2 linked regions of the Homo sapiens genome follow. The protein of the gene in region 2 purifies or fractionates together with the protein of the main gene of each other region. This does not show direct contact. Each region holds a gene or a part of one and is shown on either strand. Other genes may lie near its edges.

Evidence for each region.
Region 1: the proteins of FIGNL2 (region 2) and EOLA1 purify together in Homo sapiens (affinity purification with mass spectrometry; one large-scale study listed by BioGRID and IntAct). This does not show direct contact.

Annotation. Positions count from the first base shown.
Region 1 is NC_000023.11:149,539,589-149,543,933, reverse strand, and holds the start of EOLA1 (protein EOLA1), read right to left. Parts: upstream 2,923-4,345; 5' UTR 2,630-2,922; coding exon of another isoform or gene 2,591-2,629; exon of another isoform or gene 2,197-2,590; coding exon of another isoform or gene 2,109-2,196; intron 1,916-2,108; coding exon of another isoform or gene 1,849-1,915; intron 373-1,848; exon of another isoform or gene 1-372. UniProt on the Homo sapiens protein: May play a role in cell protection during the inflammatory response. In epithelial cells, negatively regulates IL6 production and apoptosis through the regulation of MT2A expression.
Region 2 is NC_000012.12:51,845,847-51,850,291, forward strand, and holds the start of FIGNL2 (fidgetin-like protein 2), read right to left. Parts: upstream 2,873-4,445; 5' UTR 2,694-2,872; exon of another isoform or gene 2,377-2,693; intron 1,735-2,376; exon of another isoform or gene 1,609-1,734; coding exon of another isoform or gene 1,500-1,608; intron 1-1,499. UniProt on the Homo sapiens protein: Microtubule-severing enzyme that negatively regulates cell migration and wound healing. In migrating cells, targets dynamic microtubules (MTs) at the leading edge and severs them, thereby suppressing motility.

The sequences.
Region 1 (4,345 bases), on a different chromosome or scaffold from region 2:
CCGGCCTCATGCCAGTCCTGTCTTCATCTTAGTCCATGCTCAGCAGCCCCAGCATGGCTGGGCACACTCCTTCCCTCCTTCTGGGACCCCCACGTTGCTCACCGTCCTGCTCTGAATCCCGTGGTGCAGGCCACCCCCCTTCAGACTCAGCCTTAGGTGGACAGGCCCGTACATACTCAGGACCCCAACCATCACCACCAAGTCCACCTCCCTTCCACCTCTGTGAGTGGCATCACCAGCTACAGCGTTCCTGCCCCAGACCTAGCTGCTCTCTGCCCTGCCTTTCTTTCCCACATCTGCGGCCCACATCCCGTGGCACTGTGTCCAAAACCGACATTGAATCTGATCCCTTTCCATAATCTCTATGGCCACAATCCCAATCCAATCCCCTAAAACCCCCTGCCTTCTGAAGAAGTCTCCTGATAGCACCCCCACCCCCCCCCAGCACTTGTCCTCTGCACTCTTGTGACCACACTGCCATCGGAATGATCTTGGTACAGGGACAATGAGATTATGTCACTCCTCTACTGAAACTTTTCAAGGGCTCCCTGCCCCAACTAGCACAGAATCCACACTTCCTCTCAGGGCACTCAAGGTCCCTCCTGATCTGGTTTCCCACCCCAGCCACGTCCTCTCCTCTCCCCTTTATTCACCACCCTGAAGCCACACAGGCCTTCCATCCCCTGAGGGAACATGCCAAGCTTGTTTCTACCTCAGAGCCTTTGTCAGTTGTGATGGGTTGCATTGTGTCCTCTTAAAATGCGTATGTTGAAGTCCTAAACCCCAGCACCTCAAAATGTGGCCTTATATATAAAAACAGAGTCATTACAGAGGCAATCAAGTGAGACTGAAGCCATCAGGGCGGACCCGCATCCAATGTGGCTGGCGTCCTTATGAAAAGGGGGATTTGAGAGACAGTCACGCACACAGGGAGAACACCATGAGAAGATAAACGCAGAGATAAGGGAGATGCTTCTACAAGCTAATGAGTGCCAAAGATTGCCGGCCAGCCGCCTGCAGCTAAGAGAAAGGGACAGACCAGATTGTCTTTCACAGCCCACAGAACAAACGAACCTGGCCACCACTTTGATTTCAGACTTCCATCCTCCAGAACTGCGAGACAATGATTGTCTGTTCTTTAAGCCAGCCCTTTTATGGTCCTTTGTTTCAGCCATCTTGGCAAACTGCTGTTCCCAACACATCTGCACAGGCTAGGGCACGAGTTTGCCATTTGACAGCACATCAAGCCCATTCTTTCCACCTGACAATCTTCATCTACCTTGTTTTTCACTGCCTGGGTGATATCCCATTGTTGGTCGTCTCATAATTTGCCTGACCATTCCTCCACTGATGGAGAGTTACAAGTTGCTTCCCACTTTTGCCACTAGAAATGACATTACCTCTAACACTCGCTGTGTGAAGACATGCTGAAGGAAATGCCTCGGCCGCCTGGCACGCCCATCTAAGATGCTGATATCTGCCAGCAAATGACTTTCCACAAAGACTCACCCGTGTACCCTCCACCAACCCATCCATGGTGCCATTTCCTCACACACTTGTGGCCCCTGAGCATGATTATTCTTCTGATGAGTGACCAAAGATAACCAGGTTCCTTGGTTCTGGATTACTTCTGATGGAGGCTGAATGTCCCCCACAGGGCCTGGCCACTTCCATCGGGATAAATGGCTACAGTGAATGTTTGCCTCTTTTCTGCCGCCCAGTTTCTTAGCCAACCCTTTTCTCGTCATCACCACAAAATCACAACAGACGCCAACTGTGTGTATGTGGAATCCCTAGTAGGAACTGATGTAACTGAAAAGGCAAGAAGGGGGTTGAGTCCCCTCCTACCTGGTGCTGCAGAGAGTACCTGCTTTACGGCCAGAGGAGGAAACACTCTTCCACTTAGCTTCTTTACCTGCACAACAAGGAAGATAAAGAGGAAAGGTCATTAAGTGCAAGACAGCAAAGCTGGTTAATGGCCCTAAGAAGGTCATGTACTTAGCAGGCATTGGAAACCAAGAAGAGCTGGGAGGCCTGGTCTTATCAGTAACACACATGTGCACATCACAGTTTGGTTCTGCTAATCACAGCAGTGGGACCCTCCGCACCTGTCTGGGTCAAGGACCACAGGGTGCACCAGCCCGCAGGGCAGAAAATCATTTCACCATGTTGAGCAGCATTCTTGCAGCCAAGCATGCTCCATTCGAAGGGAGAAAAATGACACTTCCCCTCCCATTGTCACGGGGCGAGTGTTTGGGACTCTAAATCCCATTGTCCTCAGCTTAATTCTGGGTAGGTCACGCTGAGCACGGCGCCACAGGCCACAGAGCTGTGCACCGCCCGGCCTCAGGTCCAGGCGAGCTCACAGCAGAAGGGCCAACGGGAGGCAGGGAAGACCGGACTGAGGTGGGGCCGCTGTGTGTGGAGCAGTACACGGGCTTTCTACTCGCAGACGCACGTCGCGGGTACACGCGCTTAGAAGGAGCGGAGCCGAGACCCTGCCGACAGCAGGGGACAGGAAAAGGCGCCTCGGTCGCGCCCCGCACGAGTTCCCAGCCCCACATCCAGGGAAACCCCAGCCCTCAGGTACCGTCCGCAAGAAGGCTGAGCACACAGGCTCCCGCAGCATGGGCCCTGGCACCTGTCAGCCCCGGCAGGTCTCACGGCCTCCGGAACCATGGACCCTGCGAGTCGTGGGTGTCTAGGGCCGACTCCGGCTTTTCGCCACAGGAATGAACAGTCCTCTGCTTCCCCGAGACCCAGCGAGGCCACCGGAGCCAGGACGATGGGCTCCCAAGCAAGGAGACGTGGGCCGCTGTGAGAAGAGGGAGCGCCTGGCTAGTGTCCAGGCTGCAAGGTCGTTGCCGCTAACTCCGGGAAACCAGTGGCCAGTGACAGGTGTTAGCGGTCTATAACTCTTCCGCTTTCATACAGCTCCCGTCATCCCTTTCACGAAGAACGTACGTGGGCGCGCAATCACGCATGTATGCACACCACGCACGTACGCGGGAGGCACGTACTCAGCCATGCATATAGACAGCAAACATTATGAATCTCGCATTCTCGAAGACACGCACTGACGACATCACGCACGTACGCACGCCCTGGCTGCTAGGAGACGCTATTCTCTTTACCTGGCCCTGATGCGCGCCAGCCAACCAGGCCAAGGCCAGGGGACCTCGAGACCGGCAGCCTCGACGAAGAACCGGAAGGAGGAAAAGGAACGGGAGGGAGGAAGAGTAAGTGGAAGGGTGGGACGAGGACACCAGGCAGGAGTTTTGGGCCCAGAGCTGCTATACCAGCAGGGAGGAGCTGGGAGAAACCGCTGGGGAGGGGGTGGAGGCGGGGCTGAGAGGAGGAGGGCGGAGCTGGGGGAGGGGCCGAGCGGGACTGACAGAAACAATTGGGGGCTGGGTTGAGGGCGGGGCTGAGATAAGAGGCGGGGTGTGGGGCAGGGCCGGGCGGGGCTGAGAGAAACCATTGTGGGCAGGGCCGTGGGAGAGCTGAGCGAGGAGAAGCTGCAGGAAGAGCTCGCGGACTCTTGAGAATCAGCAGGGGGAGGCAGGTGTCCGCTGAGAGAAGGAGGGAGGGGGAGAAAGAAATCACTGGGAGGGGCTGGGGGCGGGGTTTTTAAAGCAGCTGCGTGAGAAGTAGGGCGGGGCTGGGAGAGGCGGGGCTCTGGGGGGGCTGAGAATGCTGGGGAAGGTTTGGGGGCGGGGCTTTGGAGGCAGCCACAGGAGAAGCAGGTCGGGGCTGCGGGCGGGGCTCGGGGTGGGGCGGGGCTGAGAGAAACTGCTGGGGAGGGGGCCGAGGGCGGGGCTTTGGGAGCAGCCGCGGGAGAAGCGGGGCGGGGCAGGGAGGGGAGGGGCGGGGCAGGGAGGGGCGGGGCTGAGAGAAACTGCTGGCTGAGGTCGGGGCTTTGGAAGCAGCCCCGCGAAGAGCAGGGCGGGGCAATGGGAGAACTGAGCGAGGAGCAGCTGCGGGAGGACCCCTCGGACTCCTGAGAACCAGCTTAGGGGAGCGGGGGCTTGGGGAGGTGTAGGGTGGAATCACGAGAAAGCTCTGTGGGAGGGCCTGGTGCACAGCTCAGCTGCAGCGTGGAGCTGAGGGAAAGCCGGGCGTTCCTGGAGGAGGAGCAGGGCGGGGCTGTGGCAAAGAGGTGTGGGAGCAGATGGGGCGGGGCTGCGGGAAATTGCTGGAGAAGGGGGAGCCAAGCTGGAGTAAGGCTGGCGGGTGAGAATGGTGGGGGAGGAGCTAGTGCAGAGCTGGAGGAAAGAGCTGAAAGGTGCTGGGGTGGGCAGAGGGGTAGGAGAAGCGGGACGGGGCTAGAGGAGGCGGAGCTGGG
Region 2 (4,445 bases):
GGCCTCTCTGTTTAACAGAATGATAATGGCAGGGAAAGAATGCTGGTCTGTGGGGAAGGGAAGGGGCAAAGTCCTCCCCGGACTTGGGGGGGTGGGGTAGGGTCATGGGGAGGAGAAGGAGGCAAATAAGGGAAAGGGAGAGGAGGAGCCCCACCCAGGGGTCTCCACCACCCAAGAGCACAGAGCTGTTTACCTGAAGGTGGCCAGATTCCATGCTATGCAGACTGCCTGGCTAAAGGCCCTTACAAAACCCCTTTTATTCAGCCAACCAATATTTATGGAGCACCCACAAGGTGTCAAGCCCTGTGGCAAGCCCACTGGGGGCAGGGCCAGGGAGTACATGCTCCATTTCAGTCAAAGCCCTGAGTGGACCCCGCCACAAAGGCGGAAGGGAGCACAGGTGCAGGCCACGGAGGGAGGAGCAAGTGACAGAAGCTCGGGGCTGGGGAGGTGATGCGGAGGAGGTGCGCATCCGAGTTGGGCCCTGAAGAATAAGGAGGTTGTGGAAAGACAGGGACAATGAGGAAGGCATTTGGCTGGAGGAACAGCGGGAGCAAAGGCAGAGAGGCGTGAAATTGCGTGGAGAGAGCCCTAGATCTCAGCAATAAAGCTGCGGCCCAGGCAGGGCAGGGAGGGGAGTCCTGATCCATAAAAAGCTGTGGCCATGGGTGAGCAGAAGAAAGGCAGGAAAGGGCTCTGCGACGCCACACTCAGTCTGGGTGGCTCTCCCCAGCCTTCGCCCAGGCTGGTACTGGAATTGACAGTTACGGGATCCTCAGCCCAGCCCTCAGCCATACCACGGCCAGAGAATCGGGCAGGGCCTCCGAAGCCAAACTCATTTCTGTGTCTCTCAGCCCCTTCTGTTTCTTCTTCTGGGGCGGGGGTGGGGGCAACAGGAATCCCCCCGAGGAATGCGGGTCCTCTAGGCCTCCCCAGGAGCAACTCCTCTGCCCCACACAGCCTAATTCCCTTTGGCCCAAAAGGGCTTCGCCCAGAAGATATTACAGCGAGGACACGAGGGTCGCTCCCGTCTGCCTTGGATGCCAATGGAATCAAGTGGAAAGAAATGAAATGGTGTTAAACATGGGAAAGGGGATTTACGAGGCCTGTCACCCGTCCAGCCCAGCCACCCCAGCAAGCCCCGCCCCTTTCCTCGCCCACCCCAGGAAGTCCCGCCCCGCCCCCTGCCCGCAGCTCGCGCGGCCGCCCGGTACCCGCGTCCCACAGCTGGGTGGCGGCGGCACCACAGCACCGGGCAGCCCGGCGCGCCCGTCCTTGGGGGCTCAGGCACAGCGGGGAATGGCGTCGGTTCCGGACTGAGAGGCTCGGGGAGGCTTTAGGAGGATGCTATGGGATTTCGGGGTAGGCTCCGGGAGGGTCTGGGACTCCCTCTGCAGGGTCAGAGGGTTTCGCACCGTGGCATCTGCGGGCCCAGCCCACTCCAGAGACTGGGCGGCTCCACAGGGGAGGCCCCACGGCCCAGGAACCGGGAAGCCCACCTGCGCCGTAAGCCCAGAGTTGGGCTGGAACCGGGTCCCCACTCCTCGCTGCCGGGCGGAAAGCAGGAGACCGCTCCGCCGCCACAGCCCGTGCGGACAACACAAACATTCTTCAGTCCTCTATTCTCCTCCAAATTAGGTATCCATGGAGACAGGGCCGGCAGCCTGACAGCCCTACGGCCTAATCCTGATTTAGTGACCGTCCCTTTAACAGCCCACCCACCCGTCCACCCACCCCTGCGCTCCGGGCCGCCGCTGGGCGCAGGGTCCAGGCCGCGCGCTCTCTGCCCCGCGCAGACCCCTTCCCAGGCCTCCTCCTCTGGCGGGGGCAGGGGGACCAGCGGGGCTGGGGAAGGGCACCAGCATTTGCTGATCACCTACAGGGTGCTCAGCAATCTGCGAAGGACCCTCTGCAGCGGCGGGGGGGTTGCTAGCATGCGAATCTCTGTGTAGAACAGGAGAGGGCTCTTGCGGTGGGGAAGTTTGAGGGGCCCTCTCTGGAGAGCTGGGCGCTCCGGGGGTCCCCCTTGTTGCCTGTAGCCCCAGGGTGAAGGTGAGTACAGCCTCCTACAACCCCCTGACTCTGAGACGCGGGCTCTGTTCTCCCGGGCCAGAGGAGAAGACATGAAGAGGGTGGGTGTTAGGGGCGCGGGGACCCTAAGTAGCCTCGGCCTCCTGTCACTGCCCCGTCACCATGCTGGGGAATCTCCGGGCCAGTAACCCAGCCCCCACCCCTCCCACACACACACACAGGGGCCGCTGGACAAAGACCTGACGGAGTGGGAGGGGCCTGCGGGCCGGCCCTCGGGCTCCGGACGCTGGATCCTTCTGGGACCCGAACCCGCAAACCTTGGCTCCCCACCCCCAGGCCAGCAGACGCCCCCGAGCCGGCTGCTCGCTTTCGCTGCAGCCCCCGCACCAGAGGGGGCTGCGAGACGGGTGCCCGTCGGCGGCCGGGCGGCTATCCCCTGCTCTGCCCGCCCCCTCCCCCCGAGAAGTGACCCTCGGCTCCCACGTACCCGCTAGGGTCTCTCGCCGGCCCTGCCCTCCGACCCCCGCCGAGCTGAACCCCGCGACTAGCAGCCCCCGCCCTCTCGGCCCTCTCCGGCCCCGGGCCGGCGGACAAAGCTCCGGACACCCTGACCGAACGGTCACCTCCCCCCGCCCCATCCCGGCCCGCCCGCGGCCCCGTACCTCGGCATCACGGCCGGGTCCTAGGTGAGTGTGCGCGGCCTGGGGGCGCGTCCGGCCCGGGGACCGGGGCGGCGGCGCGGGCCGGGGGCGACAGGCCTGGGCTGGGGGGCAGTGGCGCTCACCATCCTGGAGCCGCTGCTGCTGCGGCTGCTGCGGCCGCCGCGGGCGGGAGCGGGACTGGGCAGTGGGGGTGGCCGGACAAGGGGCGGCCCCGGCTCCCCCCGCAGGAAAGACCCCCACCCCCACCCCCGCCTCCCCTCGCCCGCCCCCAGGGCCCTCCCTCGCAGGCCCTCCCTCCCCTCCCCTTTCCCTGCTCCTCCCTCTCCTAGTGCCCCTCTCTTCCCCCAGCTCCCGCCCCTTCTCTGGCCCCTCCACCCCCGGCTTCTTCCCCGCCCTCCCCCACCTCGCCCCCGCCCCGCCCCCACCTCCCCTGGGCTCGCCCAGCCCCTCCTTGCCACCCTCCCGGCTGGCCCCGCCCCCTCCCGCCCCTGGCTCTAAAATAAATTAGCCACAGAGGGGAAAAAAGAGCAAGTGACCCTCGGTGTGGAGAGTGTCCTTCGCCACTCTCAGACCCGTCCGCCCCGCCTCTCCCGGCCGTCGGAGCGGGAAGCTGGGGTTGGGGTGGGGGTCGGGCCGGCGGGTAGGGGTGGGGGACGGCATGGGGACGGGGCCGAGGCCGGGACTGAGCAGCCCAGCCCGTCGAGCGTGTCCGCTGGATGTGGGCGGCTTCCTGGGTCGAAGGGCAAAGGGGAAGGCAGCCGGCCTGGGCCCGCCCCGTCCGCGGGCCGCCCCAGACCCCCTTTCCCAGGACTGCCTTGGCCCCCTGGCCCCAGTCTGGAGGACTCTTGCTCACTTCCTCCGCCCCCAGGTGAGCTGAGAACCCACTGCGCGCGGGACTCTGCTGCGCCTGCCCTCCCGGGCTGCAGAGGGCAGGACGCACCGCCAGGCAAGGCCGCGGCTCTGCGCTGATGCCACTCCGGGAGCGGGTGGCTGCGGGGGAGGAGGGCGAGCACTGGACGGGGGCAGCGGAGTGTAGGGTGTGAGATCTAAACAGAGGGCTCCACTGGAGGGCTTGCCCAGAAGGCGGCAGTCACACTGGGCCAAGCAGGATGACTGGCAGGAAGAAAAGATGAGGGATGAATCCCAGACCTCTAGTCCACTGAGAGTGTCCAAAGACATCCGTTCAATAGATACATACTGAGTGTTAACTTTGTGCCAAACATTGGACTGTGCACCAGGGATACCCAAGAGAGTCCAAGAGGCACAGCCCTGTCTTCCTGGAGCTCCCAGTCGAAGGGTAGACAGAATTCTGCCCGACACACACACACTCAAGGCTTCATCAGGGATAAAGGCCAGGAACCGGCTTTGCCCCAGGAGAAGGTAGGAGGAGGGCTGTGCTGATGATGGAGGGTCCAGAGAACCTTCCTGCTGTTGAGCCTCCAGATGTCCCAAGGCAATCCTGTTTCCACCCAAGGGCAGTGCTTAAGGGTCCTCTCTCCTGAGAGCTTGTTTCCCTTTTGAGTGGCTGCCTAGCCTGAGTGTCAGTAGGGCAAGATTGGCCCTCACCCACTAGCCTGTAGAACTCCAAACACTACCCCCTCCCTTCTTCTAATGCAGATTCCCCTGCAGGCTCTGGGGTCTGACAGGTCTGGGGCACTCCTTTAGGTGCCACTCAGGGAAACAGAAGGGGAGGGCCTCAGTAGCTCCCACTTCTTTTCCAGCCCACATTTGGAAGCAACCGGCACCCACGCA